Homo sapiens: one gene and its partner. The protein of the gene in region 1 interacts with the protein of each later gene in a pairwise test. Each region holds a gene or a part of one and is shown on either strand. Other genes may lie near its edges.

What was found. The genes of interacting proteins can lie anywhere in the genome.
Region 2: the proteins of GSR (region 1) and CSTPP1 interact in a two-hybrid assay, tested with the Homo sapiens proteins (one large-scale study listed by BioGRID and IntAct).

The regions. Positions count from the first base shown.
Region 1 is NC_000008.11:30,699,570-30,704,759, forward strand, and holds part of GSR (glutathione reductase, mitochondrial isoform 1 precursor), read right to left. Parts: intron 3,672-5,190; coding exon 3,524-3,671; intron 567-3,523; coding exon 512-566; intron 1-511. UniProt on the Homo sapiens protein: Catalyzes the reduction of glutathione disulfide (GSSG) to reduced glutathione (GSH). Constitutes the major mechanism to maintain a high GSH:GSSG ratio in the cytosol.
Region 2 is NC_000011.10:47,159,628-47,163,353, reverse strand, and holds the end of CSTPP1 (centriolar satellite-associated tubulin polyglutamylase complex regulator 1), read right to left. Parts: intron 2,228-3,726; coding exon 2,164-2,227; coding exon of another isoform or gene 2,160-2,163; exon of another isoform or gene 1,909-2,159; coding exon of another isoform or gene 1,891-1,908; coding exon 1,716-1,890; 3' UTR 1,107-1,715; downstream 1-1,106. UniProt on the Homo sapiens protein: Regulator of the tubulin polyglutamylase complex (TPGC) that controls cytoskeletal organization, nuclear shape, and cilium disassembly by balancing microtubule and actin assembly.

The DNA of each region.
Region 1 (5,190 bases):
AGTAGCTGAGACTACAGGCCCACACCACCACACCCAGCTAATTTCCATAGTTTTAGTAGAGACAGGGTTTCACCATGTTGGCCAGGCTGGTCTCGAGCTCCTGACCTCAGGTGATCTGCCCGCTTCAGCCTCCCAAAGTGCTAGGATTACAGCCATGAGCCACCACATCTGGCCAAAACCAGCTATTCTATTCTAAAATACAAGCTACTTTAGACACATTCTTAATTGATGCTGTATTAAGTTGAAGAAAGAAGACAGTTTTAGGACTTTGCTATGCAGTCTTCAAATTACCCTGCATTTGACTTTGGCCTCTGATTGAAAGCATGAAAGATTTGAGGGATCTACTGAGGAGTTCTAGGAATGAGATATACAAGGTCATGAAAAGAGAAGCTGTAAGAGGAGGGAATTCAGGAAAGGCCTACATTAAATGCTTGGGAGGAGAAGACGAAGAAAAGTTACCAGGAGACAGTAAGGAAGAATGAGTCACTGAGGTCAGGTCAGGTTGGCTTACCCGGGCAATTCTTCCAGCTGAAAAAATCCATCGCTGGTTATTCCTAAGCTGGCACCTATGTAGAAAAAGGCAACATAGATCACACAAGACTGCTCTTTCTCTTGCAAAGTAATCACAACATTTTATGCCAAAAACCAAACACTTTCACAGCCAACATAGTCTCCGTTTTGACAAGTTTTGTTAAAGTCTCTGCTTGGAAAGCTGCCAACCAAATCCTCCCTGAGTTAACATTTTTATTTTCTCTCTAGAAACAGAAGCCATGATGGCTAAATAACTTTTACATTTCTCTGAAGAATGAAGATCTCAGTGGTCATGAACAGACTCTGTTGGATCTGTTCACCCTCCCACCCCAAGGGCAGGTAGGAACCCTGGGGCTCAGCTCATTACAGGTGTGAGACACCGTTCCTGCCTGAAAAGACAAATTTCTATGTAGTTCAAAATCTATGTGGCCTGGCCAACGTGGTGAAACCCTGTCTCTACTAAAAATACAAAAATTAGCTGGGCATGGTGGCACGCACCTATAGTCCCAGCTACTTGGGAGGCTGAGGCAGGAGAATCACTTGAACCTGGGAGGTGGAGGTTGCAGTGAGCCGAGATCGTGCCACTGCACTCCAGCCTGGGAACAGAGCAAGATTTTGTCTCCAAAAAAAAAAAAAAAAAAAAAAAAAAATCGACGTGGCCCTTTCCTCTCTGCTTATTCTTTCAAAGGTTTCAACCTATATGGTGTACACATTGAATTACAAGAGGTACAACCTATATAGTGAAATATACATGTAGTGAAAAGGAGATTGAAACCTTTGGATATAGGATAGCAGGTCCTATCTTGCAGGACTTCCAGATGCATTCTTCCAGGTTTGACCTTCTCCCCAGGTTGCAGTTCCATGTTTCTAACTATCTCGCCACACAATTTTACATTGGCTTCAAACTTAGTCTATTTAGAACTGAACCTTAATTTTATCTTCCAACCCATATCTCTCTCAAGTTTACCACTTCAGTTACCACCTGCTCCCAATAATGCAGACAAAGCCTTCAGTTGTCAACTGCTGATTCCTTCTCTCTGTAGCCCCCCTACCCTCATTTCTCATCAGTTATTAAATATATTAGGCCAGGTGCAGTGGCTCACACCTATAATCCCAGCACTTTGGGAGACTAAGACAGGCAGATCGCCTGAGGTCAAATGTTCGAGACTAGCCTGGCCAACATGGTGAAACCCCGTCTCTACTAAAAATACAAAAATTAGCTGAGTGTGGTGGCGCATGCCTGTAATCCCTGCTACTCAGGAGGCTGGGGCAGGAGAATTGCTTGAACACAGGAGGCAGAGGTTGCAGTGAGCCAAGATCCTCCCATTGCACTCCAGCCTGGGTGACAAAAGCAAAACTCTGTCTCTGAACAAACAAACAAACAAAAAAATATATATGTTGCATTTTGGCCGGGTGCAGTGGCTCACACCTGTAATCCCAGCACTTTGGGAGGCCAAGGTGGGCAGATCAACTGAGGTCAGGAGTTTGAGACTGGCCTGGACAACGTGGCAAAACCCCACCTCCACTAAAAATACAAAAAAAATTAGCTGGACATGGTGGTATGTGCCTGTAGTACCAGCTACTAAGGAGGCTGAGGCAGGAGAATTGCTTAAACCCGGGAGGCAGAGGTTCCAGTGAGTGGAGATTGCGCCACTGCACTCCAGCCTGGGTGGCAGAGCAAGAATCTGTCTCACAAAAAAAAAAAAAAAAAAAAAAAAAATTCACCTTGATAATGGATCTTATGAAGCTAATCCATGGAAAATTCAAAAGATGTATAAACTATGTTCACCATCCACAAAGTCCTTATAATCTAGCTGGGAAAAAAGAAAGATATCGCTTGAGCCATCTCCCATCTAAACGTCCTGGTCAAGGCCTTAGTGAGCTGTGATCACACCACTGCACTCCAGCCTGGACAACAGAGCAAGACCCTGTCTCAAAAAAATAAAATAATATAAAATAAAATAATAGGCCGGGCACAGTGGCTCACGCCTGTAATCCCAGCACTTTGGGAGGCCGAGGTGGGCCCATGTGACCAACATGGTGAAACTCTGTCTCTACTAAAGTACATAATTAGCTGGGCGTGGTGGCGGACACCTGTAATCCCAGCTACTCGGGAGTCTGAGGCAGGAAAATCGCTTGAACCCAGGAGGTGGAGGTTGCAGTGAGCTGAGGTTGTGCCACTGCACTCCAGCCTGGGTGACAGAGCCAGACTCTGTCTCTAAATAAATAAATAAATAAATAAATAATAAAATAAAATGCAAAAGAAGTTATGACCATCTCTGAGATTCCTTACAGCTTTAATCTTCTATAAGTCTCTACTTAAAAGAGAAAAATATGCATATAAAAGCTCACTTAGCTACTCAAGCTACATCCTTACAAGATTTCTCTCTCTTGAACAAAACAATAAATTATCACGTGTCTTGTAAATAACAACCCGTCTGACAAACTGAGGCTGGAAACAATGTATGCTAAGCTAAGAAGGAAAGAATGAGGCTTTCATTGATTTCTCTCCCTCTGTTACCTGCAATATGTCTGAGCCTGGGGCCAAATGAAATCTCTTGGCTGGGCACGGTGGCCTGCAATCCCAGCACTTTGGGAGGCCAAGGTGGGTGGATCACCTGAGGTCAAGAGTTCAAGACCAGCCTGGCCAATATGATGAAACCCCATCTCTACTAAAAATACCAAAACTAGCCAAGTGTGGTGGTGGCATGCCTGTAGTCCCAGCTACTTGGGAGGCTGAGGCAGGAGAATCACTTGAACCCAGGAGGCGGAGGTAGCAGTGAGCCAAGATCGTGCCACTGCACTCCAGCCTGGGCGACTGCATCACTAGCTACCACTAAGCCAACTGGAGTTAGGTTCTGCAGAGACCTTCTCCCATGGCCTGGCTCCAAAGAGAGAACTGGTTTAGGCAGATCCCCTGGCATGGCTTTTCAGGTTGAAAGCAACAGTAAACTCCTGACTGCTGTTAATGAGTACCTGTTGTATGACTCACCGGGGATCTGGCTCTCATGAGGGGTGGAGGGCATACCACCTGTGGCGATCAGGATGTGTGGGGCGGTGTACTTTTTCCCACTGACCTCTATTGTGGGCTTGGGATCACTCGTGAAGGCTGCATGGCCACGGATGATTTCTATATGGGACTAAAGAAGGAACCATGACATTAGCCTGTTCTTAGAATAAAAACAAAGACACCTACTGCAACTTATCAGAACTTTCATTTCTCTACTGAACATTTTGATTCTTGGTTTGCTGATGCCAACACAATTCTCCGTTTTTCAAGTTTCTGTAGAACTTCTAACTGGCAACCTATACTTAGGAAAGGGGTTGCCATTAGTTGCCGGAAGTATACAGTAAGATGAAATAGGCTGGGCACAGGTGGCTTACACCTGTAATCCTAGCACTTTGGGAGGCAGAGGTGGGTGGATAGCTTGAGCTCAGGAGTTCGAGACCAGCCTGGGAAACATGTCAAAACCCAGTCTCTACTAAAAATACAAAAATTAGCCATGCATGGTGCTGCACACCTGTAGTCCCAGCTCTTTGAGGGGCTGAGGCAGGAGGATTGCTTGAATCTGGGAGGTTGAGGCTGCAGTGAGCTGAGATGGCACCACTGCACTCCAGCCTGGATGACAAAGTGAGGGGGAGGAGGAGGAGAAAGAAGAAGAAGGAAGGAGGGAAGGGGAGCAGGGGAAGGAAGAAGGAGGAGGAGGAGAAGAGGGAGGAGGAGGAGGAAGAAAGAAAGAAGTTAGAAGAAGGAAGGAAAGAAGAAAGAAGGAAGAAGGAGGAAAAAGAAGAAGAAATAAAAGTGCTAACTTGGGCCAAAACCCAGAGACAAAAAAGTATATGCAAGGCACCCCCGTAAGAAAGATGACATCTTTGCCCCCAAGAATTGAGGGCGAAAGTTCCTTATGTGCAATGTAATCACATTACAGAATGGTGTGTCTGGCCTGGGCATGGTGGCTCACATCTGTAATTCCAGCACTTTGGAAGGCCGAGGCAGGCAGATCACCTGAGGTCGGGAGTTCGAGACCAGCCTGACCAACATGGAGAAACCCCATCTCTACTAAAAATATAAAAATTAGCCAGAAGTGGTGGCGGGCACCTGTAATCCCAGCTGCTCAGGAGGCTGAGGCACGAGAATTCCTTGAACCTGGGAGGCAGAGGTTGCAGTGAGCCGAGATTACGCCACTGCACTCCATCCTGGGCGACAGAGACAAGACCCTCTCTCAAAAAGACTGGTGTGTCTGGAGGAGAGGCAGAAGGCTAAGAAAGACAACAGGATAATGGTGAAATGAACAGAGGCAAGAGCAAGAGAGGAATACTCTGGCCAAGGGAGGGAAACGCAATGCTTGTGCTTTCGTAAAATGGGAAGAATACCACAAAAGTACATGACACTGAAGTTCTACGCTGGAGACGGTGAGAACTCAGACTCTTACTTTTGGATTTGCTCTTACTGGAATCCTCTGTACCCAGGCCTTCACTTAGGGGCTGCTGGCACGCTTTCGCCAGCCATGATACATGCAGGGGCATGCAAATGTGGTCAACTTACAAGAATAATGGAACCATGTAAGCATGATTACAAAGTGGAATGCTTTAACATATTGGAACGTGCTTGATTCTGAATTGAGTTATCTTCTTCTTTCCCTGCACCCTCCAGGCCTG
Region 2 (3,726 bases), on another chromosome or scaffold:
GACTCCATCCCAAGTTGATAGAGTTAGACTCTCTGGAGCTTGGTAATTTGCATCGTCAGTAGGCTTTCCTGTGATTCTGAGGACACCAGGATTTGAGAACCATGTCTCTTATGGGCTGTGCATCATTGTGGGCCTACAGAGCTCATCACGCAGCCTGAGCTTTTTTTTTTTTTTTTTTTTAAGATGGTCTCATTCTGTCAGTCACTCAGACGGGAGTGCAGTGGCACGATCATGGCTCACTGCAGCCTCAACCTCCTGGGTTCAAGTGATCTACCTCGGGTCTCCCAAGTAGCTGGGACTACAGGTGCAAGCTACCATGCCTGGCTAAGGTTATTTTGTAGAGATAGGGTCCTACTATGTTTCCCAGGGTGGTCCTGAACTCCTGGGCTCAAGCAGTTGGCCCACCTTGGCCTCCCAAAGTGCTGGGATTACAGGCAATGAGCCACTGCATCCTGGAGCAGCTTCGGGGCTGGAATGCCTAGTCTTGGCCTCAGCTCTGCAGGGGTTTGGGAGGCAGTTCCTGTAATGATCCGTTCTGGGTAGGGATGAGCCCAAGGAAATGTGTATGCCTAGTAGTGGTGACATCCACCTTCAGAGGAGGCAGTCCTGTTCTGCTTGGGCTTCTGGGTGGGTTTTGCTTTCTGGGGGACCCCGCCCCTTCAGCCCTCAATCCAAAGAAGTTGAAGACACTCGTCCTTACCTGCCTCCAGTCTTGGCTGGGATGTGTCTGCCCCAGGCTGTGTCTGTCTGTCTTTCACAGCTGCATCCCACTGTTCTAACCCCAAGCAGGTGCTTGGCAAATGTTGACTGAAACCCTGGCTGGAAGGCTGTGCAGTATTAACCCTTTATGGCCACGGTCTTTAAAGTTATGGGAACCTGGCCTTGAACCCTCTGAACCTGTTTCCTGAAGGCCGTTCCAGCTGTGAGCACTTTTCCTCTGGAAGGTTGCTCTTGTGCGAAGCTAGGCCCCTCTGCTCGTTGTCTGAGGCAGGTCCCCAGGTCTGAGTGGGCCACTGGCCTACCTCCTAGTCCTACCAGAAAAGCACCGAAAACCCAAACTCCCCCTCTCCCTTCTCCCCTCAGCCTAGGAGCTTTAGACTCACCAGTTACCAGACATGAGGGACTTTTTATTCGTTTCACATGTTTGTTTAGCTATTAGACACAAAGGGGTCAAGACTTGAAGCAGTTTTTGCAAGTGAAATCATCTTCTGGCCCACCCTTCATATTACCAAGGCTACTGGCTGTTCTCCAACAGGCCACAGCGGTTATGTCCTCCTGGTACTTGCGTCGCAGGTGTCACCCTTGATGGTGCAAGGCCCTGCGTGGCTATTCGGGTTCTCCCCCTTAATGGAGTTGCTGTGAGGAGATGAACCTTATTGGGGGACCCGCAGAGGCTGGCTCAGAAGAGACTGCTCTTAAGAGGTTAGGAGGACTAACAGGCTACGGCGTGACAAGGTGGCCTCAGCACAGTCTGTCAGCTTGGGGCCTAAGTGAAGTTCACAGGCTGATAGGGCCAGGGAGAGCAGGCCATTCACCTTCCGGGGCCACTGGCTGGGCTGATCATCAGAGCCCCTCTGGCTGGTCTTGGGGCTGTTATTCACCTTGTCAGCAGCAGAGGGCAGCACAGCAAGGTGCTGGAGAGGAGGCTGGGTGGGCACACCAAGGGCTGGGTGGGAGCAGGTACAGGGCGCTGTGGGCAGGACCCTTTGGACTCCTCAAGTCTCCGACTCGTCTGTCTCTTCAGTGGAGCCATCACTCTCTCCATCCACTTTTCGGGAATGATGGAGAGGTCTCCAGGGAGAGCCAACCCGGGGAGGGGTCCGGGAAGGCAGGCAACTGGCCTCTGGACTGGCTGTGACCGAGTTGACCAGGCCTGGGACCTGGGCCAGCCTGAAGAAGGGAAGAAGCCTGGAGGGCAGCGAGAGGCCTCCTGTACAGAGAGCAGGGCCTCCATGCCCACTCTTAACACTAGGGTAAACCCCTGGGCTGCAGCCCCCAAAGGACTCAGAGGGAGGGACACCTCAGGCCTCCACTGGCCCCCAGACCCTTCCCTGGCAGATGTGGGATGTTACAGACAAGTGGTGTTGGCCCCAGATGGGGCACAGCCGTGTCCGACCCGTCTGGCCCCCACAAGGGGGCAGTATCCTCCCACTTGACACTTACAGCCGTTCCAGCTCTTCATCCATTGCTGGGTCGTGCATCAGATCCCCCTTGTCAGGCAAAGCTCCTAGGAGATCATTGGGGGCACAGTAGTTAATCTGAGGGCCCTTCAGCCAGGCAACAGATTCCTCCATGCCCCTCACCTTCACGGCTGCCTGTTCTGCTGACCCTGCGAGGGCCGATCTAAAGATCTGAGGACTGCTAGAGGGGCCAAGAACAGTCACGGAGCAGGAAGGTGCTCGCTGTTGCTTGATACATTTATTGAATCCCACTGCCTACTTTCCCTGCCTGGGGCAGACACCACAGCCAAGGAGTGTGGTGATCCCCTTCCAACACCAGGTGGTGGTTGTGACCTGGTGCTGGGAGTTGAGTTCCTTCTTGAGGCCTCAGGTACTGGGCTGAAAAGGATATGGTCCAGGCTAAGCCCAAAGGTCAGACATTACCTAATTTTGTGTCCCTAAATCAGGATGACCCCACTTTGGAGACAGATGGTTAAAAAAAAAATGCTGCCTCTGCTTCTCCAAGGAGGATCCCAGGGGCAAGAGGAGAAGGCTGGGTCAGGGCCAGAATTAACCCGGCACAGGCAGATTTCCCCTTTTTCCAAATCTTTTTCAGATGATGCCTCCTGGCCCCTCTTGCCCTAAGTTAGTGGTTTTCAAAGTACATCTCATAGAACCCTCTCATTTGTGGGGTGCCCTGGGGACTAAGGGAACAGGGCTGACCTCCGTGACGCGTCAACCAGTGTATCTCCGGATTTCTATTTCATACGCTGGAGATGCAGGTGAGGCCTGAGACCACATGCTTCTTTCTGTCTCCCATTCCATCCAACCACCCAATGTTAGTGTGCAGTAAAAGTGGTTGAATGAGAGTGACTTTTTTTTTTTTTTTTTTTTTGAGACAGAGTTTTGCTTTGTCACCCAGGCTGGAGTGCAGTGATCATGGCTCACTGCAGCCTCGACCTCCCATGCCCAAGCGATCTTCCCACCTCAGCCTCCTGCGTAGCTGAGACCAATGGTACATGCCACCACACCCAGCTAATTTTTGTTTTTTTTCTAAAGAGACGGGGTTCTCCCTATATTGCCCAGGCTGGTCATTAACTCCTGGGCTCAAGCAATCCTCTTGCTTTAGCCTCCCCAAATGCTGGGATTACAGGTGGAGCCACCATGTCTGGCTATTAGTGTTTATTTATTTGATGGAGTTTCGCTCTTGTTGTCCAGGCTGAAATGCAATGATGCGATCTTGGCTCACTGCAACCTCCGCCTCCCTGGTTCAAGTGATTCTTCTGTCTCAGCCTCCCCAGTAGCAGGAATTACAGGCATGTGCCACCACAACTGGCTAATTTTGTATTTTCAGTAGAGACGGGGTTTCTCCATGTTGGCCAGGCTGGTCTCGAACTCCTGACCTCAGGTGATCCGCCGCCTCGGCCTCCCAAAGTGTTGGGATTACAGGCGTGAGCCACCACACCCAGCCAGTGTCCTTTTTAAAGGCCCTTAGAAAAGGGGGATGAGGTTACTTCAGGCTGTGACCCAGTTGCTAATTGGCTTCTCCTTCCTAGTGGCTGCTACT